3 linked regions of the Homo sapiens genome follow. The protein of the gene in region 1 interacts with the protein of each later gene in a pairwise test. Each region holds a gene or a part of one and is shown in the gene's direction. Other genes may lie near its edges.

What was found.
Region 2: the proteins of TPTE2 (region 1) and AATK interact in a two-hybrid assay, tested with the Homo sapiens proteins (one study listed by BioGRID and IntAct).
Region 3: the proteins of TPTE2 (region 1) and PTK7 interact in a two-hybrid assay, tested with the Homo sapiens proteins (one study listed by BioGRID and IntAct).

Annotation. Positions count from the first base shown.
Region 1 is NC_000013.11:19,425,533-19,429,032, reverse strand, and holds part of TPTE2 (phosphatidylinositol 3,4,5-trisphosphate 3-phosphatase TPTE2), read left to right. Parts: intron 1-2,515; coding exon 2,516-2,608; intron 2,609-3,199; exon of another isoform or gene 3,200-3,326; intron 3,327-3,500. UniProt on the Homo sapiens protein: Acts as a lipid phosphatase, removing the phosphate in the D3 position of the inositol ring from phosphatidylinositol 3,4,5-trisphosphate.
Region 2 is NC_000017.11:81,119,009-81,121,221, reverse strand, and holds part of AATK (serine/threonine-protein kinase LMTK1), read left to right. Parts: coding exon 1-1,021; intron 1,022-1,138; coding exon 1,139-1,286; intron 1,287-1,641; coding exon 1,642-1,842; intron 1,843-2,213. UniProt on the Homo sapiens protein: May be involved in neuronal differentiation.
Region 3 is NC_000006.12:43,079,314-43,082,813, forward strand, and holds part of PTK7 (inactive tyrosine-protein kinase 7 isoform a precursor), read left to right. Parts: intron 1-3,500. UniProt on the Homo sapiens protein: Inactive tyrosine kinase involved in Wnt signaling pathway. Component of both the non-canonical (also known as the Wnt/planar cell polarity signaling) and the canonical Wnt signaling pathway.

The DNA of each region.
Region 1 (3,500 bases):
ATATATGAAGTTTCTTTGTGAACTATAAATCACTAAATAAGTGTTATATGTGATAATTATCAGGCCTCTTTGTCACATAGGAAATGCCCCACCATATTTTTCAACAACTTCTCTCTTATTTCCTTGGCTCGAGCTCTGAAGATGTAATAGCCCTAACATAATACCTGAGCTTTTTTCCATCAGTAGCTTGACCAGCAGACTTCATTCCAAATAAACTGGGTCATCCCTTTTGGCTCTTGGAACACAACTCTAATTTAGTTAGTTAGTTAGTTGGTTATTTCTTCCTTTCCTTTTTTTTTTTCCTGAGCCAGGGTCTCATTCTGTCACCCAGGCTGTAGTGCAGTGGCATGATCATGGCTCACTGTAGCCTCAACCTCCTGAGCTCAAGCAATCCCCTAATTTTTTTTATTTTTTGTAGAGCCTGGGACTTGCTATGTTGCCCAGGCTGGTCTCAGACTCCTGGGCTCAAGCAGCCTGTCCACCTCAGCCTTGCAACATGCTGGGATTATAAACATGAACCACACTGCCCGACATTGTTTGTTGTTGTTTTTCCAAGTTTTTTCTTTTTCTTTTCTTTTTTTTCTGAGATGGAGTTTTGCTCTTGTTACTCAGGCTGGAGTGCACTGTCACAATCTCAGCTCACCACAACCTCTGCCTCCTGGGTTCAAGCGATTCTCCTGCCTCCGCCTCCCAAGTAGCTGGGATTACAGGCATGTGCTACCACACCTGGCTAATTTTGTATTATTAGTAGAGACGGGGTTTCTCCATGTTGGTCAGGCTGGTCTCAAACTCCCGACCTCAGGTGATCTGCCCACCTCAACCTCCCAAAGTGCTGGGATTACAGGCTTGAGCCACCGCACCTGGCCCATTTTTCTAATTTCTACTTTGTGTTATTGCTCGTCTTTTTCTCTCCGTTTGGACTAAATTCTTTTTTCAGAGCTCTTCTTCCTTTATCTAAACTGCTTCATGCCCAATTCAATTTCTACCTCCTTAATGAAATTTTTGCATTCTGCACCTTCTGTTAACTAGCCCCCAGTAGTACATAACAGCACACCCAGTCTTTGTCATACAGATTGAGTTATGTACCATTCTACTATTGTTTCTTAAATGTACAGCTCCCTGAAGGGGCCAACTGAGTCTGCACCTCCTTTTGTGTTTTTCACAGGGCCTAGCATAGACCTTTCTTATTGTGGGTGCCATTATTTCTATGAGAATGAGTCAAAGAACTAGTACGGCTTCAAAGTCATTCATTCCAAAACTTGAGCTATCTTTGGTCACTCCATCCTGCAGCCTGCACTGGTCAAGTTCAAAGATCCCATTGACAAACACAAGAGTTCTGATAAAACATGATGAGCAGGGGGACCCCACTCTCCCCCTCCCTTGGGAGGAGCATGCAGGCCCAACCCCCAAGTGTTACAGACCCCTGTTGTTATTTTTTAAATTTAGAAAATAAAAAACCATGATAAGTTATGCATTGCTTTTTGAATGTCAATGCTAGCTTTAAAATTGAGCTTCTTAATGTATTCTCAAAAAAGGCCCTAACACATGAAAATCAAATGAGACACATTAAATAATAATATTTAATTGATTAAAGTCTAATGGAAAATTCAATACTTTTTAAAAGTGCAGCACTTTTGAAAAGTGCCTCACGGCCGGGCACGGTGGCTCATGCCTGTAATCCCAGCACTTCGGGAGGCCAGGGTGGGTGGATCATGAGGTCAAGAGATCGAGACCATTCTGGCCAACATGGTGAAACCCCGTCTCCACTAAAAATACAAAAATTAGCTGGGCATGGTGGCACGTGCCTGTAGTCCCAGCTACTTGGGAGGCTGAGGCTGGAGAATCAGCTGAACCTGGGAGGCAGAAGTTGGCAGTGAGCCGAGATCATGCCACTGTACTCCAGCCTGGTGACAGAGTGAGACTCTGTCTCAAAAAAAAAAAAAAAAAAAAAAAGAAAAGAAAAGAAAAAAAAAGAAAAGTGGTTCATGATAACCCTAAACATGTTGGCCTTTAAAAGACATAAACAACAGGCCGGGTGCAGTGGCTCATGCCTGTAATCCAGCACTTTGGGAGGCCCAGGCGGGCAGATCACTTGAAGCCAGGAGTTTGAGACCAGCCTGGCTAATACAGTGAAACCCCATCTCTACTAAAAATTCAAAAATTAGCTGGGTGTGATGGCTTGTGCCTATAGTCCCAGCTACTTGGGAGGCTGAGGCACAAGAATCACTTGAACCTGGGAGGCAGAGGTTGCCATGAGCCGAGATCACGCCACTGCACTCCAGCCTGGGTGACAGTGAGACTCTGTCTCAAAAAACAAAAAACAAATGAAAACACACACACACATAAACAACAGTATTGCAACTAGAAAAGATTATTAATAATTATTTATGCATGTAGTGATTGGGCTGTGAGAGCAAAAGTACTTGATAAATACAGGAAGTCATGATAAGTGAAAAGGAACTTTTGTTATCGTTATCTAGGTTTGTAGTTCTCAATTCCATGTGTTCATTCATAGATATTGCATGACATTGAAACAGACAAAATATTAATTAATGTATATGACGGTCCACCTCTGTATGATGATGTGAAAGTGCAGTTTTTCTCTTCGGTGAGTAATCACAAAATAGCCTCTGCCATTGTTCTTGTCTGGTCTAATGATTTTATTTCAGATTTGCTTTACTACAATTCCCAACAAGGGAGGGGGAGGGGGAGGAAAACAATAAATCAGATCTATAACAAATTTTTTTAAAAGAGCGTATGTAATTTAAATAATTTGTGTTCATTTGTTTTTTTCTAAATTGTAAATTTTCTAAATTTTTCTAAATTTACCTGTATTCTCAAATACAAAAAATACAAAATAAACACAAAAAAAGTAAAAGCCAAGATGCTAAAAAAAAAAAAACCCAAAGGTACGTTTTACTGCATAGCAATGATTACATTTTGTTTTGCATCTTTTTTAAAAAATTAAGAAGTTGAGACAGGGTCTCACTCTGTCACCCAGGCTGGAGTGCAGTGGCGTGATCATAGCTAACTGTAGCTTCACCCTCCTGGGCTCAAGCAATCCTCCCACCTCAGCCTCCCGAGTAGCTGGGAGCACTGACTAGAAAGAGTTAGGTTTGGGTGACTCAGTTGGGTGAAACAGAGAAGGCAGCACAATACAACACACGAAATAACCAAAGCAGTTTTTTATTAATTCCAGAGAGAAGAGGGCAGCACACAGGGCCAACTGGAAGGGGGAGCCATCCAGGAGACCTGTGCTCGACTGATGGGTGGGAGCAATAGCGAGAGAGAGGGAGGGACCTGAGAGTGGAAGCCTTTATTGGGATGTAAGGTGCTACCTGAGCAGGTTTCCTGAGGGGAAGTCTAATTTGGTTTAACGCAAGCAGCCATGAGTCTCTGCTGTGACTGAGAGGTGGTCACTGATATATCCACATGGTCCCTGCGGAGTATGGGGGTCTGTGGGATGAGTCAAGTAGGTTATATCTAGCTGTCCCATAGTG
Region 2 (2,213 bases), on another chromosome or scaffold:
CCTGGACATCCCGTCCTCAGCCAGTGATGGTGGCTATGAGGTCTTCAGCCCGTCGGCCACTGGCCCCTCTGGAGGGCAGCCGCGAGCGCTGGACAGTGGCTATGACACCGAGAACTATGAGTCCCCTGAGTTTGTGCTCAAGGAGGCGCAGGAAGGGTGTGAGCCCCAGGCCTTTGCGGAGCTGGCCTCAGAGGGTGAGGGCCCCGGGCCCGAGACACGGCTCTCCACCTCCCTCAGTGGCCTCAACGAGAAGAATCCCTACCGAGACTCTGCCTACTTCTCAGACCTCGAGGCTGAGGCCGAGGCCACCTCAGGCCCAGAGAAGAAGTGCGGCGGGGACCGAGCCCCCGGGCCAGAGCTGGGCCTGCCGAGCACTGGGCAGCCGTCTGAGCAGGTCTGTCTCAGGCCTGGGGTTTCCGGGGAGGCACAAGGCTCTGGCCCCGGGGAGGTGCTGCCCCCACTGCTGCAGCTTGAAGGGTCCTCCCCAGAGCCCAGCACCTGCCCCTCGGGCCTGGTCCCAGAGCCTCCGGAGCCCCAAGGCCCAGCCAAGGTGCGGCCTGGGCCCAGCCCCAGCTGCTCCCAGTTTTTCCTGCTGACCCCGGTTCCGCTGAGATCAGAAGGCAACAGCTCTGAGTTCCAGGGGCCCCCAGGACTGTTGTCAGGGCCGGCCCCACAAAAGCGGATGGGGGGCCCAGGCACCCCCAGAGCCCCACTCCGCCTGGCTCTGCCCGGCCTCCCTGCGGCCTTGGAGGGCCGGCCGGAGGAGGAGGAGGAGGACAGTGAGGACAGCGACGAGTCTGACGAGGAGCTCCGCTGCTACAGCGTCCAGGAGCCTAGCGAGGACAGCGAAGAGGAGGCGCCGGCGGTGCCCGTGGTGGTGGCTGAGAGCCAGAGCGCGCGCAACCTGCGCAGCCTGCTCAAGATGCCCAGCCTGCTGTCCGAGACCTTCTGCGAGGACCTGGAACGCAAGAAGAAGGCCGTGTCCTTCTTCGACGACGTCACCGTCTACCTCTTTGACCAGGTGGGCCGCCGCCACCCGGGGTCTGCCCGGGGCTGGGGGTCGCGCTCCCGCAGGAAGGGGTGGGAGCGGCCGCGGCTCCTGGCGGCCGAGCTACCTGGTGCTCTCTGATTCCTCCAGGAAAGCCCCACCCGGGAGCTCGGGGAGCCCTTCCCGGGCGCCAAGGAATCGCCCCCTACGTTCCTTAGGGGGAGCCCCGGCTCTCCCAGCGCCCCCAACCGGCCGCAGCAGGCTGATGGCTCCCCAAATGGCTCCACAGCGGAAGAGGGTGAGCAGGGGCGGGGCTGGGCCCGTGACGTCACGGGAGGCAGGGCCTGGTCCGTGCTGTGTGGGAGGCGGGGCCTAATGTGTGACATCATGGGAGGAGCACCTGGTCCTTGACGCGTGGGAGGCGGGCTTTGGCCCGTGTCGTCATGGGAGGCGGGTCTGGTACGTGACGTCACGGAAGGCGGGGCCTTGTCCGTGCTGCATGGGAGGCGGGGCCTGGGCCCGTGACATCATGGGAGGCGGGGCCTGGGCCCGTGACATGATGGGAGGCGGGGCCTGGGCCCGTGACTGTGGGAGCGGGGCCGGGCCGGGGTCCCAGGCTGTGAGCGCGAGTGACGCCGCGACCTGGGCTGCAGGTGGTGGGTTCGCGTGGGACGACGACTTCCCGCTGATGACGGCCAAGGCAGCCTTCGCCATGGCCCTAGACCCGGCCGCACCCGCCCCGGCTGCGCCCACGCCCACGCCCGCTCCCTTCTCGCGCTTCACGGTGTCGCCCGCGCCCACGTCCCGCTTCTCCATCACGCACGTGTCTGACTCGGACGCCGAGTCCAAGAGAGGTGAGGCCTGGGCGGGGCTGTGGCAGAAGGGCACGCGGGAGGCAGGGCACGGAGCTCCGAGGGTGGGGCCCCTCCGTCTAGGTCCTGGGCCGGGCCAGCCCCGGCTCCGCTCCGCTCCGCTCCTTCCCGGCCCCGCTCCTTCCCGGCCCCAGACCTAGCCTGGACCCCGCCTGGCCCTCGCCTGGCCCTCACCTGACCCTCACCTGACCCTCACCTGACCCTCACCTGACCCTCACCTGGCCCTCACCTGGCCCCTGCACTCGGCTCTCCTCTGCCTGACCCTACCCCGCAGACCTGCGGCAGGCCCTCTCACCGGAACCTTCCCAGCCAGAAGTCCCTGCAGACCCAGGTCCCACGGTGCCCCGGCCCCA
Region 3 (3,500 bases), on another chromosome or scaffold:
AAAATTAGCCAGGCGTGGTGGCGGGTGCCCGTAGTCCCAGCTACTCGGGAGGCTGAGACAGGAGAATGGCCTGAACCCGGGAGGTGGAGCTTGCAGTGATCGTGCCACTGCACTCCAGCTTGGGCGAGATCGTGCCGAGATCGTGCCACTGCACTCCAGCTTGGGTGACAGAGCGAGACTCCGTCTCAAAAAAAAAAAAAAATCCAAGGGTGCTCAAGTCTCTTATATAAAATGGTGTCGTATTTACATATAACGTACACACAACTTCCCTGTATACTTTTGTTTTGTTTTGTTATGAGACAGGGTCTCCTCTATCACCCAGGCTAGAGTGCAGTGGCACAATCTTGGCTCACTGAAGCCTCAAATTCCTGGGCTCAAGCAGTCTTCCTGCCTCAGTGCTCTAAAGTATGAGGATTACAGGCATGATCCACTATGCCCAGCTTCTCCTGTATACTTTAAATCATCTCTAAGGGCCAGGTTTACGCCTGTTATCCCACCACTTTGGGAGGCAGAGGGAGGAGGATCGCTTGAGCCCAGGGGCTCAAGACCAGCCTTGGCAACACAATGAGACCTCCACCTGTACAAAAAAAAAAAAAAAATTGCCAGGCATGGTGGCACGTGCCTGTGGTCCCAGCTGCCCAGGAGACTGAGGTGGGAGTATTGCCTGAGCCCAGCAGGTTGAGGCTACAGTAAGCCATGATTGTGTCACTGCACTTCGGTCTGGGTGACAGAGTTCAAAAAAAAAAAAAAAAAAAAGGGCAGGATGCAGTGGCTCACGCCTGTAATCCCAGCACTTTGGGAGGCTGAGGTGGGCGGATCATGAGGTTAGGAGAGCGAGACCATCCTGGCTAACATGGTGAAACCCCATCTCTACTAAAAATACAAAAAATTAGCCAGGCGTGGTGGCAGGCGCCTGTAGTCCCAGCTACTTGGGAGGCTGAGGCAGGAGAATGGCGTGAACCCGGGAGGCAGAGCTTGCAGTGAGCCGAGATTGCACCACTGCACTCCAGCCTGGGTGTCAGAGCGAGACTCTGTCTCAAAAAAAACAAAAAAATCTGTAAATTACTTGTAATACCTATTACAATGGAAATGCTATGTAAATAACTGTTGTATTCTTTAATTTGTATTCTTTTTTATTGTTGTATTGTTTTTAATTTTTATCTTCCCCCAGTGTTTTTGATCCTCTGTTGAGGGATGTGGAGCCCAGGGATAAGGAGTATATCTGGCAAAGCAGCAACTCAGACTCATTGGCAGGCCCTGTGGCCCTGGATGAACCTCTTAGCTTCTCAGCCTCTTCTATAAAGGGACATCCTAGAGTTGTGCTGAGGATTAAGTATAATGAAGTAGGCCGGGTGCAGTGGCTCACATCTGTAATCCCAGCACTTTGGGAGGCCAAGGCAGGCGGATCACCTGAGGTCAGGAGTTCAAGACCAGCCTGGACAACATGGTGAAGCCCCGTCTCTACTAAGAATACAAAAATTAGCTGGGTGTGGTGGCACACACCTCTAATCCCATCTACTCAGGAGGCTGAGGCAGGAGAATCACTTGAACCCGGGAGGTGGAGGTTGCAGTGAGCCGAGATCGCGCCGCTGCACTCCAGCCTGGGCGACGGAACGAGACTCCGTCTCAAAAAAAAAAAATACACACACACACACACACACACAGCCCTTTCTTGGTCTTCCCTCTGTGGTGTGCTTCAAAGATTCCTTCAGCTTTACAGTCATTCCCAACAATAGACATTTTACCTACTGGGACCCTCCATTCCAGTCCAGCTGGAATATTTGCCATCTCCTAACACATATCTGGTTTTCTCCCACCTTTCTTTCCTTCGGGCCAGTCCCCGGTTGTACATTGCCTTCTCCTGTCTCTCTGTTGCCCAGCCCCACCGCCTCTTCTTCCCTGAAGCTGTCCTATCTCTCCTGCCAGAAGGTAGACACTGTAGAACTTCTGGACTGTCATTCTTGCGACACCATCCATATTTTTGCCCCTATTGGGTTTTGTTTTAATTTACTGAGGGGCTCTCCCATAGAGTTTAGTACAGTACTTATTTATAATGGGTTCTTATGTAGGTGGTTTTTTTGTTTGTTGTTTGTTTGTTTTTGTTTTTTTTGAAATGGAGTCTGCCTGTGTCTCCCAGGCTGGAGGCATTGGCACGATCTTGGTTCACTGCAACCTCTACCTCCCAGGTTCAAGTGATTCTCCTACCTCAGCCTCCTGAGTACCTGGGTTTACAGGTGTGTGCCACTGCACCCAGCTAATTTTTGTATTTTTAATAGAGACGGGGTTTCCCCATGTTGGCCAGGCTGGTCTCGAACTCCTGACCTCAGGTGATCTGCCCACTTCAGCCTCCCAAAGTGCTGGGATTACAGGCGTGAGCCACTGCACCCAGCCGATATAACAGGTCCTCATATAGGTTTATTTAAAAAGTGAATGAACCATTTGGGTGCAGGGCAGAATGATCAAGGGTGGAGTTAAATATCCCCTTGCATCCTAGGCATGGGGAGTCTTTTGCACCCTCCCCAGCTTCTTTGAGTTGGGGTTGCCTGTTCCTCCTTGCGCCTGCTCTACGGTGACCAAATTAAGGATCAGACCTTCCTTCCCTGATCCTGGGCTGGCTGGTTTTGGTGGTGGTTTTTCTCAGTTTTGATGTGGTGGGTCTTCTAGCTTTCTCCAAGTTCTGTGCGTGGGTAAGCACCGCTACGTATGAAGCTGACTGCAACTTAAAAACTGGTGCTAAAGTTGCTTCCTCAGAGAACTGGGTAGGGGCCTAGAGTATCTATAACTGTGCTACTTGAAGAAAGACCCAGGGCCACGTGGCATCAGCATTCCTGGGAGCATGAATCAGAATCGCAATCTGCAATTTATTTATTTATTCTTTTTGAGATGGAGTCTCACTCTGTCGCCCAGGCTGAAGTGCAGTGGCACGATCTTGGCTCACTGCAACCTCCACCTCCTGGGTTCAAGCGATTCTCCTGCCTCAGCCTCCTGAGCAGCTGGGATTACAGGCGCGCACCACCACGCCAGGCTAATTTTTTTGTATTTTTAGTAGAGACAGGGTTTCACCATGTTGGTCAGGCTGGTCTCGAACTCCTGACTTCATGATCCGCCCACCTCAGCCTCCCAAAGTGCTGGGATTACAGGCGTGAGCCACCGTGCCCTGCTGCAATCTGCATTTTAACAAGATGCTCAGGTGACTCTGTACCCCAGAGTTCCAGAAGTCCTGGCCTAGGCATCCTTCTTTATACAGAATCTCAAGGCACAGAGCTTTCCTGTTGCAACAGTATAAATTGGGAGCTGAGATGCTGCACAGTATTTGAAGATTTGCTTTAAATAACTCACTTTATGCGAACACTCCTTGGGGTGATGTGTACGCTTTAATATTACCTCCTTTGGGTTTAAATTGAATTAGATTTTGTCAAGAAATTTCTCCATTAAATGTGTGACTCTAGGAAGTCTGCAATATTCAGCCTGATGTTTAGCTCCTCTCAGAACCTCAGCTT